Linked DNA regions of Homo sapiens: region 2 is linked to region 1. Evidence: fine-mapped expression QTL. Tissue or cell type: whole blood. Region 1 holds a variant in brackets; the other region holds the start of a gene. All regions are shown on one strand. Distances are between the middles of the regions.

What was found. PIP is the estimated chance that this variant, and not a neighbour inherited with it, causes the effect.
Region 2: HTRA1 starts here. The variant in region 1 is fine-mapped to the expression of HTRA1 in whole blood (TOPMed, PIP 0.97).

Annotation. Positions count from the first base shown.
Region 1 is chr10:122,145,143-122,153,245 of GRCh38, reverse strand. All of the region lies in intron 7 of TACC2 (transforming acidic coiled-coil containing protein 2), which reads right to left. It overlaps LOC124902518 (a long non-coding RNA gene), which reads left to right. Exons shown (of 2, transcript XR_007062323.1): 1 at 1-726; 2 at 6,239-6,942. Among named protein-coding and RNA genes, the nearest start is that of BTBD16, 120 kb to the left of the region's middle. The variant C/T (reference allele first, on the strand shown) is at 4,563.
Region 2 is chr10:122,457,642-122,465,744 of GRCh38, reverse strand. It overlaps HTRA1 (HtrA serine peptidase 1), which reads right to left and starts at 4,192. Exons shown (of 9, transcript NM_002775.5): 1 at 3,621-4,192. The coding sequence starts at 4,092. HTRA1-AS1 (HTRA1 and ARMS2 antisense RNA 1) reads left to right here and starts at 4,340. Exons shown (of 3, transcript XR_946382.3): 1 at 4,340-4,796; 2 at 5,834-7,250.

The DNA.
Region 1 (8,103 bases):
GGCGAGAGGATCACCTGATGTCAGGAGTTTGAGACCAGCCAGGCCAACATGGTGAAACTCTGTCTTTACTAAAAATACAAAACTTAGCCGGGCGTGGTGACCTATGCCTGTAATCCCATCTACTCAAGATGCTGAGGCAGGACAATTGCCTGAACCTGGGAGGCGGAGGCTGCAGTGAGCCGAGATCACACCACTGCACTGCAGCCTGGGAGACAGAGCAAGTGAGACTCCGTCTCAAAAAAAAAAGAAAGAAAGAAATATATATCAAAAGCATTGCTCTCAGTGCCTGGTACATAGAAAGTACTCAGTAAAGGCCAGATGTTATCACAAGAGGAAGAAAACTAGAGCCACTCTGTGATGCTCCAGGGAGAACCTGAAACCTAATCCCAGTCAGAGCCTATTATGTTGCTCTCCACCCTTTTCTCCACAAGGTCCCAGTTCCCACCCTGAGTCCTGCCAAACAGTGCTGCAACAGTCAGCGTTCTGGCCACAGAGAGTGAGGATGCAGGATGGCTCGGCCCATTTCCCCAACTACGTCAGTCTGGACAGATGTCTCAGGCTGTGTTGGCAGAGGCACTGCTGGTACCACGTGCCAACCTCGGGACAAGCTGCCTCCTCTTGGAAATGAAGCAGGGACGATGCACCAGGGAATCATGTCATCAAGTCAGCCGTGTCAACACGCGTTTATGGAATGGAATGGAATAGAGTATCACTGCAGCCCACCAAGTAAGGGAAGGTCCGTGCCAATCGTGGACACATATGGGGTTAGTACATGTGTACTGGCCACAATGTTAAGCTTCTCCCTGTGGTTTGAGCAGAGCCGCTCTGGCCAGACTGCAGGTCCTCCGACCTGGGAGACTTCCCCCTTTCATTTGTGTTTGCTTATTTCTTTTTGTTGTTGTTGTTGGATCTTCCATCCCTCTTTAAGAAATCATTCTGATTTTATTCATTGGCTTTCAGCTCCATTATCTAAACCCAAGAAAGGCAGGCAGGACCCTGTAATTCTTTCTGCAAAGCCAGGAAATGATGCTCAGCAAGACGGTATTTAGACAGAGATGGGAGCAGGGACACCAAGGTGGGGCACAAGGTGGGCAAGTCATCCTCAAAGAGCCACCATCCTTTGCCTCTTAGCCCAGGAGAACACTCCAAGGTCTCCATGTTTGGTGGAGCCACATGGGGAATTATACCCTTCTGGCCCTGGGCCCCAGCCTTGGGCAGTAAGGGGAGGAAATGCTGGTGCCAAGCCCCAGGCCCTGGGCAACTTCTCCCAGCGAGCCCCTGCCCAGAGTCACAGTCCAGCCTGGGAGTAGTCACCTCCGCAGTGTCACCCTCAGACATACTGTGGCCCACGTTGCAGGGTCACCACTGTATCCCAGCACCTGCCTTCAGCCTTGCACAGAGCAAATGCTCAATCAACGTTGGTGAATGGATGAATGCAAGGCACAAAGACAGACCCAGGTCCCCTCCATCCCCACGGCCACTGCTTTAGTTCAGGCCACCACTGTCTCCCACTTGGACCACAGGAACAACTTCCACATGGCCCTCTGACCTCTGGCCTCTCCTCCACCCACCCTCCTCCTCGCCACCAGAGATATTTCCCCAAACTAAATTCCATCCTGACTCTCCCCTGCTTGAAAAGAGAAGACATGTTTCTTTGCACTTCTTTGGCACCAGCAAACTCCCCAGTCTGGCTGCAGGCCCCTCTAAATCTGAGGACCATGGCCACCTTGGCTGCTCACCCTGCTGCTCTGTCTGAGACCGCCGTACCTCCCTCTAGTCCCTCCAGTTCCTCTCTGACCTGCTGCCTGAATCTGCTGGGCCTCGCCACACCCCAAGCTTTGGCACATTTGGTTCCTCTTCCCTGAAGCACTTTTGCCCTTCTTTACCCTCAGCAAACACCTAGCCATGCTGCAAAACTCAGTGGTGATGCCGCCTCCTCTGGGAAGCCTTCCCAACTTCTCCAGGCAGAGTCAGGTGCTCCCTTCTCTTGAGTCTTTTGTTCTCAGCTCTATTGGAGAGTTTATCAGGTTGTACTATGTTAAGTTTATCATGTTGTATTTTTCTGTTTCCAGAACAGCTGTCTCTGTCTGCCTCCTTTTCCCCATCACTGCTGGGAGTTGGAGTGGGGGGAATGTGAATTCAATGCCTCCTACTTGTCAAACACTGAGCTACATTCTTCATGTACATTTACTACTCACAATAACCCCCAAGAGGTGGGTACTACTAGCCCTATCTTAAAGATGGGTAAACCAAGGCTCAGAGTAGTCAAGTAACTCATGCCATGTCACACAGCTGGTAAATAGGCCTGTCTTTCCAACTTCATGCTCCTTCCCCTGCGCCACCTTCCGAATAGTCCGTGGCATAGAATCAACCGGGATGTATCTGCCGAGAGGCTGGCTGGCAGGATCAAAAAATGCAAACAAAGCAGAAGAAAGGACCCAGGAACGCTGCATGACTCCACCTAGACTCCAGCGCTCAGCAGGTCCTTCTCCTGACAGCGAAGTATTAAAGAAACTGGCTCATCAACACGGCGAGGCACTCGGGCATGGTGGGGTCCTGAGCCGCACATGCTCGTACCATATCCCATCCTACCCCACCTCCCTGGGCCCTGCCTCCCTTGGTTTGGGGGTCTATTTCTCCACCACCTTTGGGGCACTCTGTGACCAGCCGTCTCCTGGCCACCCCTCTTTCTGCACCTCCACTGGGTCTGAGGGCTGGAGAGCACGCATTTGGCTTGGAAGGAACGCAGCCTCCCGCAGGGCAAGCACCTAAAACCATCAAGTGGAAGCCGAGGGCCGTCCCTGGGCAGCCGTGCTCGGGGAGGAGGGTGGGCTCCTGGCCTCAGCTGCCCCTATTCAGGGCAAGAAGGGCCCCCACACTGCCCTGGAACCTTCCACCCACCAGTGCTGTGCTGAGCACGTCCAGCCACGCCCTCACAGATGCCTGCCCATATGTTCCTCCCTGAGCCCCATTTCAGGGCGGGATCCCCTTCCCAGCTGCTCTAGGGGCCGTGGGACTGCCGCCCAGATGGCGTCACAAGCTGAAGCTTTGCAGCTTCTCCCAGCTGTGCCCCCAGAGTAGGGCCAGGGAGCCCCGCTGCTGCCGGCTCTCCTTCCCCTCCCCTCCCAGAAGGAGGAAAAGAACTGCAGACCTGGGCCCACGGAACTGAGGGAGCCACCATCTAACTGACGCCCTCTGCTCCTGCTCCTCAGGCTGAAGCCAGCGGGACAGCCCAGCACCCACTCCGCGGCAGCTCACATTTCGGAGACTGAGCGGGAACCAGGGGACCCATCAATGCCTCCGCGCGTCTCACCGGCCGGTGACGTGGCTCAGCGTAGTTATGCTCAGTCTGCCCCGGACCCAGTGGGCCTCAGAGGCAAGAGAACAATGGAAACTTGACCTGCGTAACCAAGGAATGATGCCACGAGAGCCCAGTTTGGTCAGCGCAGAGTCTAATCCCCGGAGACCCTCAGCCCAACAACCCAGCCCCTTTCCCTAGTGAGGCAGAGAGGCTCATCTGCACCCCGCCTACAAGGCAAAGTGCCGCGCTGGGGAGCGGACTGGCGAACTGGCTCCAGAGCGAAGATGCATCATGTTTTCCAAAGGGCTGACTTCTCTAACTCGGGTGGAGGGAATGGGGAGGTTTCTGCCCTTCCCCTCCTGCGCAGGAAAAACTCTGGAGTCTTGGAGAAGTGTTGACAGAGGGAAGGGAGCAATTTGGGGCAGCTGCCCAGGGCGGGTGGGGCCGGGAGTGTGGGGGCACCTCACAGGAAAGCCTGAAGAGCCAACGCCACAGCCGCCACAGTCTGCAGCTCAGGGTAGCATTTCTCAAGGGGTGTCTCCTGGGCCTCCTGCCCAGCACCGGGGATCCGGCTTCCTCCTCCCTGCAAGAAGCTCAGCTGCTTCTCCCATCCCGTTTCTCCCGCGTCTATCCAGACAGCCCTTGGCCAGGTTTCCAAGTCACCAATTCCTAGGGGACAGCTGTCCGCAGCAGGGAGTGAGAGGCCAACTCTGAACAGAGATGATGCTTGCGTGGGCTCACACCCACACCCACTCAGCTCATGTCCAACACACCAGGCTCTTTGCCACAAGCTCTCAGAGGTCAGCTGTGGCTGCCTTGGTGAGGTGAGGGCTTTCAGCTTGTATTCCTGGAAATTCTTATTATCAGACCCCTCGCCTGGCTTCAGCCTCGTACAGCTCTCCAAAGAGCTGACAGCTCTGGAAAAGTCAGGGTGACCTGCTGACCCCACAAAGCCTCAGGAGGGCTACGATGGAGGGGAAAGGAAGGCCCATCAGAAGCGTGGTGACTGCAGCAATGGTCTCCCTCCCAGGCAGGGATAGGAGGCAGAGACTTGAAGCTCTCTCTCCTTCCCAGAACCTCACTTTTCTCCCTCTCAAAGTCACATCTGTTCTCCCCAAGGCCTACGGCCTAATGATTACCAATGAGAGTGGGGGGAGGGGAGTGTGAAAACTCCTGGAGAAAAGCCATTTGCACTGGAAACGTGGGATTGTGTCATCGTTTCCACAGCAGCCGCAAGAAGCAGGAAGAGGCAGCAGGAAGT[C/T]ACCCAGCATGTTTGCAAGAACAGAGCATCTGTCAATTCTGTAATAAGATGTGCCCTGGGCTTTCTTTGTCAATACACCAGGTCTCACTGCCTCGCTGCTCCCCTCCAAACCCAAAGAGAGAAGACAAAGCCACAGATATGGCGGGCACTGCAGCTGCCTGCGCATAACACCCAGAAGGCACGCTGGCTCCAACAGGCGATGCCTGGCTGGTGGCAGGAACCCATGGAAGACGTATTTCCAAAATCAAGAGTCCATCCAGGACCTCAAATTCTGGCCCAGGGCTGGGCATGGTGGCTCACGCCTGTAATCCCAGCACTTTGGGAGGCTGAGGCGGTCGGATCACCTGAGGTCAGGAGTTCGAGACCAGCCTGGTCGACATGGTGAAACCCCATCTCTACTAAAAATACAAAAATTAGCCAGGCATGGTGGCGGGTGCCTATAATCCCAGCTACTAGGGAGGCTGAGGCAGGAGAACTGCTTAAACCCGGGAGGCGGAAGTTGCAGTGAGAAGAGATCACGCCATTGCACTCCAGCCTGGGCTATGAGAGCGAAACTCTGCCTAAAAAAAAAAAAAAAAAAAAAAAATTCTGGCTCAGCCTGGGTGAATAACGACTTCCATTTCAGTGAAATCAAATGTTCAACCTTACATTTTCGAAACTTGCTTTGAAAACCTCCAGGAACTCATCCAAAGGGAAAAAACACGGTTGATTGGATCCCTGGATCCAGGCCATGGCCGCATGGTTGAAAGCAGCTGTGGAGAGAGTCGAGGTGGAGAGTGCACTGAAGGTGATGGAACCACAGCTGTCAGGGAGCCCCAGGAAATGGGGGCCTCAATCCTAAAACCACTCCTGTCTTGGCAGGCAGCTGGCCAGGTCTTTAACAATGCAGATCCGATCGTATCACTGTACTGCCTGGGGGCTTCTGGACACTCTTAAAAGAAAGCCCAAGGAGCCCATGACCAAAGCTGCTACAATTGGAGCAATGAAATAACGTAGTATTGGGTTATAACCCAAAGAATAAAATGAATATCCAGGAGTCCATGCAGATATAAATACATGATTGAATCAATTAATAAATGAAGGAGAACAGAAAAATCTCCTGTGCAGAAAAACTCTAAATAATTTCTGTAGATGTTCCACCCTAACAGAGGAGGAGCACAACTCTCCACCCCTTAAATGTGCACACAGTGACTTCCTTCCACAGACGACAGTACTGAAATGGGGGAAAAAAAGGAACTTGGCGGGGCGCAGTGGCTCATGCCTGTAATCCCAGCACTGTGAGAGGTCAAGGCGGACGGGTCACTTGAGGTCAGGAGTTTGAGACCAGCCTGGCCAACATGGTGAAACCTTGACTCCACTAAAAATACAAAAATTAGCCAGGCGTAGTGGCGGGAGCCTGTAATCCCAGCTACTCAGGAGGTTGAGGCAGGAGAATCGCTTGAGCTTCTGGGGTGGAGGTTGCAGTGAGTGGAGATGGCACCACTGCACTCCAGCCTGGGTGACAGAGTGAGACTCTGTCTCAAAAAAAAAAAGTAACTTTACAGTGGAGACAGTCAACAAACATGACCTCAGCCAAGCAACTGAGGTCAATGTCAGCAGTGATATGTCATGTCGATGGTATGTACCCTTGATAGGATGTGATGAAAATGACACTTGATCTCTGTTCTTCCTCCCAGAACCCACAGGCCCAGTCCAATCATGAGAAAAGCATCAGACAAATTCCAATAGTGGGGCATCCTACTAAATACCCAACCAGAACTCCTTAGAACTGTCAAGGTCATCAGAAACAAGACAAGTCTAAGAAGAAACAGCCACAGCCAAGAGGCACCTACAGAAACAAAATGGAAATGTGGTTTCCTGGATGGGATCCTGGAACAGAAAAAGGACATTAGGGAAAAACTAAGAAAACGTGAATCAACTATTGTATTAGTTCATTTTCTGTTGCTTATAGCAGAATACCTGAAACTAGATAACTTATAAAGAAAAGTAGTTGTTTTCTTACAGTTATGGAGTCTGAGAAGTCAAAGGTCAAGGGGCAGCATCTGGTGAGGGCCTTCTTGCTGGTGGGGACTCTGCAGAGTACAGAGGTGGTTCAGGGTATCCTATAACGAGGGGGCTGAGTAAGCTAGCTCGGGTCTTTCTTCCTCTTCTTATAAAGCCACCAGTCCCACTCCCATGATATCCCAGCAATCCATTAATTCATGAATGGATTAACCCATTCATGAGTGCAGAGCCACATAACCCAATCACCTCTTAAAGGCCTCACCTCTCAATACTGCCAGATTGGGGGTTAAGTTTCAGCATGAATTTTGGAGGCAACAAATACTCAAACCACAGCAACTATAGACTTTAGTTATTATAATAAAGATGTATCAATATATTGATAACTTTTTTTTTTTGAGATGGACCTCAGGGTCCATGCACATGCTGTTTCTCCCCAACAATATCTATTCTCTTCTGTATCTTCAGCAACCTCCGGCCCAGCCCACACATAAACCCACTCAGCCTAAGCTCTCAGTCGATTCCCTGGGAAGCCATCCTCAGCTACCCAGACTAAGTGAGGTTGTGGGTCGCATCCATCCAGGGTGCTGCACTTCTCCCCTAGTAACTCATTGCTCCATGTCTATCTGCCAGCACTGGATGCTCCTTGAGGGCAGGACGGTGCCTGTCTTCCAGACCTCTGTGTCCTGTCCCTAGCACAGTGATTGGCCCAGAGTAATCCCAAGTTCATGTTGCTGAATGGCTCAGATGTGTAAATGAATGAGATTCAGAAGCAACCCACACAGAGTGGGCTCCAGGGCTAAAGGTGAGATCACCCAGTGTGCCTTCTATGACAGGTTGAGAGCCGTGAGCCCATCTGACCTCAGGAAAGAAAGACATAGAGCAAATGGGTACCACTTGTGTCTGCTGGTGCCAGGAGGCACCAGAGATGCTCTCTGACCCTAACACTGCATCAGCAAAAGGTCTGAAGGTTGAAATTTTTATTTTAGATTTCATCAAAAATCTACTCTAGCCCTTGGATAAGTTCTTTTAAAAAAAATGAGGTATAACTTACATACCAAAAAATAGTAAAATTCACTCTTTTTAAGTATATAGTTCCACAAATTTTACAGAACATTTCCATCACCCCCCACAAAGATCTCTTCATGCTCATTTGTAGTCAATACAAATCCCAGCCCCCAGTGCCCACTGATCTGTTTTCCATTCCTTATTGTTTTGCCTTTCCCAGAATCTCATCTAGACTGAATCATGTAGAATGTAGTCTTTTGAGTCCAGTCTTTCTCACTTAGCCTAATGCATTTGCGATTCATCAATTTAGTTGCATGAATCAATAGCTTGTTCCTTTTTATGGGTGAGTAATATTCCTTGGCATAGATATACCACAATTTGTTGATCCTTTCACCAGTGGATAGATATCTGGGTTGTTTCAAATTTGGGGCAATTATGAAGAATACATGCATACAAGTTTTTAGGTAGACATATATTTTCATCGTTCATAGGTAAATATCTAAAAATGGGATTGCTGGGTCATATTGTGGAT
Region 2 (8,103 bases), 310 kb before region 1:
CCCTCGGCTCTTTTTGCTTTTCTTTAGTGAGGGCTGCACTGACGGCAACTGGAGGCAACCTTGTCTTCAGGCTCCTGAGCCTGCAGAGTGAAGGCTGTGATCTGTCCTGTTCCATCTCTAAGCCACAGCCATCTGGAGCCCTGTTTATTTCAGCTATTAGCTGGGGCTTAGCTGGGGTTGGTTTAAAATCTCTGTTGCTCTGTCAACAGCACAGCATGGTGGTTATGAACGAGGCTCTCCATCCAGTTGTGTGGGACCACCAGTCCTGAGCAAGGTACTTCTCTGTGACTTAGCTGCCCAGCTGTAACCCAGGGAAGACTACAGCACTCACTCATAGGACTGTCCGGAGGATCAAATGAATTAGTATGCACCCGGCATAGAATAAGCACAACATATATGTTAGCCCTCATTATTAGTACCCTATTAGTATTTCAATTCCTTTCTTTTTTGTAATCATCTGACCAGTACAGCTGGAGATGACAGATCTTTGTTCTCTAGCTGAATTGTATACTTTCCCATCCAAACCCTGCCAGTGCATTGACTTCTGAAATAGATGATTTGCCTTCATTTCCAGAGCGGTGAGCAGAGATGTTCTCTGAGGTCTATTCAATAAACAGCTTACAGATGAAAGTGCTTTCCTTTGAATGGTGACATGTTCCTCTATCCAAAGATCTACTGTGACCCAAAGTGCTAGTCACCTCCCTGGGGACCCCTGATCTGATGACATTTCTACCTCTCATCCCCTGGCATGCTCTGCCCCAGACAAAGCCACCTTATAATATTTGAAATCGCAGCACCCGCTCCTGCCTCGAGAGCTCTGTCTCCAGATCCGTGTATGACTTGCTCCAACTCCAGGCCTCTAGTCAAGTGGCACCCCTAGAAAAGGCTCATGTCCATGGCAGCTAAAGTGACTCTCCCGCCAATCTTCCAGCCAGAGCAGGCAGCCAATTCACCTCATTTAACAGTGACGTCAAGTGACCTGCCCGTGGGCACCAGCTGTTGAGTCCTGGAGCCTGGCTTGGACTGAATGAAGTCTGCTGGCTCCCAGGCGCCTGTCCTCGGAAACACCTCCGAAAAGTCAAGGGTGGAGTGTGAGATCCAGAGAGGGGGCGCAGCAAAGCAGTGCCTTCCACTAAGGAAAAACAGAATGGCTGTGTATCGCAAGCACCTCCCGTTTGTCTTCATTCATTCATTTATTCATTCACTAATCCACTCGTACCAAGTACCTCCGATGTGCCAGACAGACAAACATGCAAACGGTGTCAGACACCCTACAGAGCTCAATAAATATTTGCAAAAGAAGGAGGGAGGGATAAGAAAAGCATTGTACCCACTCTGTCTCTCCCTCCTTTCAAAGCCACCATGCTTATCCCTCTGTGGCTGTCCCCTCACTGGTACACCGGGGGCCCGCTGTGAGCCCGATGGCCAATGGGGGACCTGTTTTCCTCCACACAGGGACTCAGCCAACTCCAAAACTTGTTAAGCAACTTGCCTCACTAGCAATAAATTAGGCGGCTCGCATGGTGCCAGCAACTCAGGACCCCGTGCGATGAGACCACAAACAGCGAGACCAGTAACAGCTGGCTTGTTTTGGACAAAAACATGCTTTTTCAATGTTGTCGCCTCACACCCAGATTATTGCAGTAGTCTAAACTCTCCACCCTGGATGCATTCCGCACTCCACTGCTAGGTCAGCCCTACACTACACTAGGCTTTGAGTTGCTCCAGTTCAAGAACATCTGCGCACAGGGCACGGGGCACAGCCAGCCTCTTCAGCCCTGGGACTCTGGGCCACCAGCCTGGCTCACTCCTGCTGCCCTCCCAAAACGTTCCCCAGCCACACTGATCTATTCACCTCCAAACAAGTCTTAGGCTTTGTGTATGCTGTTCCCAGCTCTGAGGGGGATGCACGTCCAGCCCACCAGGAAATTTACAGCACCTGACCCCTCTCCCACACCCTTGGAGTTAAGTGCTGGGCTGACTCCTCTGAATGAGGCTGTCTGGGTTTAAATTCCAGCTGAATGACCTTGGGCAAGTTTTTCAACCTTAGCTCCGCTATCTGTAAAACGGGAATGAGAAGCTGGGTGTGGTGGCATCCGCCTGTAGTCCCAGCCACTTGGGAGGCTGAAGCAGGAGAATCATTGAGCCCAGGGGTCGGAGGCTGCAGTGAGCCATGATCACACCACTACACTCCAGCATGGGCGACAGAGGGAGACCCTGTCTCTTAAGAAAAAAAAAGAGAGAGAGAGGAGCAACTGCCTCCTCGTTTGACCAAATGAGGTCACAGAGGTAACACACCCGGCACACAGACTGGGTGCTCAACAGACGTGTGCTATCATCATGCCCCTTCTCGAGTCTGCAGGATCACTTCTCTCCGGGACAACTCTCTACTGCCTGACTAGGCTGAGTTTCCCGAGGGCTGTGCTCCTGTGTTGGTGAAATACGCAATCTCGAATTTCACCCAGTTCGGCTCTGGCATCTTCCCGTCCACGTAAGCCAAACTATGCTAAGCCCTAGTTGGTCACACCGAACCATATTCCTATAAAGTAAACTCTAGACCAGTCCCTCTGCACTGTGCTCCCCTATGCCCCTCTCCTGGCACTGCCCGTGTTGAGGAGGCAGCACTGGGGTCCGGCAGCAGCGGCACGGCTGCGCCCAAGCGCACTGCCAAGCCCCGCTGTCTGGTTCCTACAACGCGGGGCTGGCCGCTGCTGAACTCGATATTATTTTTCCACATGGCCTCTGCCTGAAGATGAGGAGCATCTCTCCGGAAGGTCCCGCGAGAGAGTTAGACATTGCTCCATTCCACTCCTTCCCCCATCACCACCGTCTCCCCTGCCAGAACAGGTCCTGTGTGCGGCTGTAGGAACAGAGGGGTAGACTTCTTCCTCATCACTAACCCGGTCCCTTCTCCGCCTCTGCAGATTTCGTGATCCAAAGCCCGATTCAGCTTATTCAAAAGGAGCCACTTTCATTTTTGTAGGGCTGGCTCAAAACGAGGAAAGCAAGACAGGCAGCAACGCCGCCGAAACGAGAGCGGTGCCAAACCGTTCCCTGCTCGGGGTAGACTTTTTGGAGAAACTCCGGGGCGGGCCGGCAAACACTGTTCCTTTCCAAAAGAGTTACATACAGTTTTCACTGAGCGGTCCCGTGATCAAAGCAGTGAATTTTAAAGGGGACGGAGGACGTAAATAGAAGAAAAAGCAACCGAAATGACTTCTTGTGGTCCTGAAGCCGCTCTGCGAGGCGCCAATTCCCAGTCCTGAACTTCTCTCCTTCCTTTATGCCCCCATTCCTCTTATTTGTCCTGGGGTCCCCGCGCTGTGTGGTTGCCCTCAGGGCACTCCATGGCCGGTCGCCCGGCGTCTCGAGCCCCAGAGTGCAGGCCGGGCGTACTGGCATCGTCTGGGCGCAGAACCGGCCCCGGGCTGGGCGCGAAGCTCGGTTCCGAGGCAGCCCGCGGAAATCCGCCACCCCGGGGCCCACCTGCCTGTCCCCGAGAGTTGCCCTGGCCACCCCACAACGCTTCGCTGCCCCTCAACCTGCCCACCAGTCCCGCAGAAGCAGGTCCGAGCTGGGATGGAGAGAGTGGGGAGCTGCCCAGGAGCGCGGCGGAGTACCTTGGCCGCAGGCTCCGCGCTGCAGGACGATGACCGGCGGCCGGTGCAGCCTCTCGGAGCGGCGGCTGGCGGCGCGCAGCTGGCACAGGTTGGCGTAGGTGTTGGCGTCGCTGCCGCACACCGGCTCGCTGCTGGCGCACACACAGAGGCCGGCCTGCGCGCGCCGCCGCACCGTGGCCGAGGCTGGCACCCCGAAGGGCACCACGCACTGCAGCCCCTCGCCGCACGGGCCCTCCTGCAGGCCGCACGCGGCGCCCTCGGGCGCGCCGCACACCTCGCAGCAGCCGCACGCGTCCCGGGCCCGGCCGCCCTCGCAGTGCTCCGGCTGCGGCGGGCAGCGCGCCGGCTCGCAGCGGTCTGGGCACCCGGCGGCCAAAGGCGCCGAGCGGCCGGCCCGGGACAGCTGCGCCGAGGCGGGCGCCGCCAGCAGCAGCAGCAGCAGCGGGAGAAGAGCGGCGCGCGGGATCTGCATGGCGACTCTGGCGGCGGCGGCGGTGGCGGCGGACAGGGCGAGGGCCGGAGAGCGGCGCCGGGGAGAGTGCAGGAGGGCCTCGGGGGCAGCGGGTGCGAGTGCGCGCGGCCGCGCGGCCCAGCCCATTGGCCTCGCAGCGGTGACGAGCCGCCTTGGGGACGGGCACGGCGCCCGGGATGGGGGCTGGCCGGATGGCGGGAGGGAGGGCGGGCGGCTGGACCGGGACCGCCCGCGGAGGGGGCAGGGCGGGCGCGCCCGGGCACGGCGGTGCTGGCGGGGCGCGGGCGGGGCAGCGCACAGGCCGGCCCTCTCGCGGGACTCAGTTTCCCCGTCTGCGCGCCCCACATATTCGCTTTCCGCAGGTTCTCTCGCTGAGATTCGCGTCCTTCAAACTAATGGAACTTTGCAAGGGGGCCCTGCGGCGGCTTCGCGTGGGAGCGCCGGGGAAAGTTCCTGCAAATCGCCGGACTGGGGGCCCGCCCGGGAAGCTCGGACTGGGCCGGGCAGGGACTGCAGGGGCCTCTGCGCAGACCCGGGGCGTTGCGGCACCGCGGACCCCGGTCACGCGCTGGTTCTGCCCCCGGTACCCCGCACGCGGGACCCTGACCGCGGGGCCTCTGCGGCCGGACGAAGGCAGCGTCCGCGGAGCTGGCAGAAAGCCCGCGCCCAGACCCACAGTGAAGTGATAAAAGCAGAGAGCAGAAGTAATTCGAATAGAATCCTTCACACGTCTGATTCTTTTAAAAAGTTGTTGTGGGTGGCATGCGTGTCCGTATTCGCAGAGAGCCTAGGAAGCGGCTCGGCAGCTCGTAACTGGCGAGGGTGGAGCGGTCTCAGATGGGAAAGGGGTTTTCCCCTCTTTTGATTTTTCACCAAGTGCGTGATTATTTCAAAACACTTGTTATCAAAAATTTGATTTCCCACTGGAGAATCTTTGGTGCATCCGTTGGGACAGATGCGAGTCCGAGAGTCATCAGGAGGGCTGAGGGCGACCCTGGAGGTGGGTCTGGGTGCCCAGGCAGCACCAGGCCTGTGGGCAGTAGTCCTGGGTCCACACTGAGCAGATGGGCACAGCTCGTGTCCAAGGACCTGAGAGGAGGCCCTTCGTCCAGCCCTCATCCCGAACCCTCAAACCTCCACCCCCACCCTGGGCAGAGGCACCCAGGGTTGGGTGAGCCGGCAGAGCTGACTTTGGGATAGAGTAGCATGGGAGGGGGCTGGGGGCTTGGGGATTTTAATATTCTTCTGTATTTGGGTTGTTCCCTTGTGCACACGTTATTTTTCCAATACAAATAGTTTAAAAAGTAAACTCCAAATACCTATAAGCCCCCTCAAAGCACCTTCCAAATATGAACCTTGTTAATGCCCAAGGTCCAGAGGGGTCCCCCAGAAAGGCCCAGGAGCCTGGGGCATGGGAAAGCTGTCGGGGTCCCCATGCTGACTCCCTGGACTCCAAGCGATATTCCATAAAGCCAGGGCCTCCTGGCTGCGGGAGGGAGGCCTTGACCCAAAATCCATTCGGCCCTGGATACTGGAGAGGCAGAGGCCTCTGCTGATGAGAAGCCCTGAGTTCCTGGCTAGCTGTGGTTAACCACAAAAAATGCGGGGGGTGATGATTTTCGAAGTCCATCGGCAAAGAAAGACTCCCCACTGCAGTCCTGGGGCAGATGGAATTAAAAGGACACGTGGTGGTGAATAAATTGGTGATAACTTATTTTTGTCGAATTTCCTTATTTTACAGAGGAGAAAACTGAGGGCCAGAAAGGGTGACTCCCCTGAGTGTCATGCCACAAGTTGAGTGCTGGAGCCAGGACACCTTCCAAACCGGCTGTGCCTGCCTGCAAGCCCCATCCTCCTCCATCCCCCTGAGCAGCCAGACTGCAGAGGGAATGAGCGGACCGAAAACAGTGTGGCCGCAACTTCCCCACTGCTTTGCGGGAGGTGGAGGGAGTTTCTAGGCTCTTTCCCTGTTGGGGAATTAAGTAGCTGGGGATCCCACTGAGTCTCCACCACCCTCTCACCCATTTTCCACCCCTCCCCCACCACATATACATTCTGCTCCCCCAGTGCCAAATAACTTGCATTTTCTGGAACACACCTGTCTGCTTACGGTCTCTGTGCCTTTCTTTGCCCACATCTCCCCTCTTCTTGAAACACCCCTCCTCCCCTCCAGCGTGGGCTCATGTGACCTAGAGAAGCACGTGGGAGCCCTGTCATCTGGGGGACTTGGGTTCAAATCCCACTTCTGGTCCTTAAGTCTGTGACTCTGGGCCTTTGTTTAATAACTGGAGGAGTTTCATTAGGAAAATGGCAGTGACCACATATGTCCCTGGAGTGACTGATGTGCCACCCACAAGCTTCTATTTGGTCAGTGCTGGGTCCCATCGTCCCATCTAGCATGCTCCTCTTCCATCCTCGTGCCCCCACTCAGTGCCATTGTCTCTGCCTCTCACCCTCTGTGCTGCTATTCCTGCCCTCATCACCTCCTCCCTAGGGCAGAGGCCCCGTCTTCTTTACCATGCCCCAGTGCCAGCACAGTGCTTTGGCAAGTTATTCAGCACTGGGGGAGTAGAGTGTATGTGTGGTGGGGGAGGGGGTGGAGAATGGGTAAGAGGGTGATGGAGACTCAGGGGGACCCCCAGCTACTTAATACCCCTGAGGAAGTGTCGGCCGAAGTGGACCCACTCCTGTGACAGTTCACAGCCTAGAAGAGGCGTCTGTAACCACGGTGACCAGTAAGTGCCAGCCCTGGGGCCACGTGGCTGTTCTAGAGAAGGAAGACAGCACTACCCTGAGAGCCATGCTGGTGGCTTCATCAGGAAGGGAGTCAGCAGGGGGAGGACTGGGGGACCAAGCGGTCCCTAAGAAGCAGAATTTGCAATACCCAAGGTTTTAGAAAGAGCAACCTGGCAGGGCCACTGCACAATGAGATCACAGACTCACCTCCCAGCTGTGAGTGCAGCTCACCCCACCTGCTCTGACCCAGGCACCGGTTATGAAGAAGACAAGCAGCTCTACAGAGGGGCCTCAAGAAATCCTTCGAAACAGAAATCAAAGTCTTGCTGGAAGGGTTCTGGGCACCCTGGACTGTCCACATGGGAGGCTGTTGGTGCGTGTGCCTACGTGTGTCCATCAGTGGATGCACGAAGAAGGAAATGGTAAGTCCATTGAAACCTGGCCTCGTGGGCCCATCTCTGACCTTCCCTTAGTCCTAACGTCTCCATATCTGGAGGTAATGCTTTCAACCTGCAAGCGTTGCTCTTTCTTTTAGATTCTTCCCCATCTGCTGCCATTTATAAAGACGTTTTCTTAAAAGAAGCATTTTTCTTTTGATACATCATGAAAACTCATTTCTCACTCACCAGGCCTTGGCACGGTATTCTAGAGAGGATTTTTCCAGAGGAAAGGGGGCAGTTTTGAAGCCAAACAGACGAGTTCCCCAACATCCTCTCTGCAGCCCTCATTTGCAGCATTGAAGCTTTAGTTTTGAACAGGGCCAAGTCTATTCATGAATAATGAACAATGAAACACCACAGATGCCAGAGCCTTAATCAGGAAACGAGGCTTCTGAATAGGAATGGAGCAGCCATGTTTGTGCTGCCCAGGAGGACGATTTCCCACTCCGGGCCTCTGTTCTCCCAAATGTACAAAGGACCCAGAATGCTCAGGGGCTCCTATTGCCTTTCCTAAGTCACAGGATCTAAGATCTAAGGAGCTACAGTAATAATTTTGGCTCCTCCTATAAGCTTAGCCTATCCCTCTACTGCTCAGTAGTTTCCAGGGGCTCTCCATGCCAGTAGAATGAAGTCCAAGCTTCTTACCCTGACTTCCAGCGTCCCCCATGCCCCTCAAGCCAGGTTGTCCTCTAGATCCAGGGTGGTGTAATCCATCCCTACTCACCCATTCTCCCATAGCAACAGAACCCTGGCTGGGGCCATGCCAGCAGGTAAAAGATGACTTCTCAGCTGGTTTCACCCCCTTTCCTCAGAGTGCCAGACCCACTCCCATCCC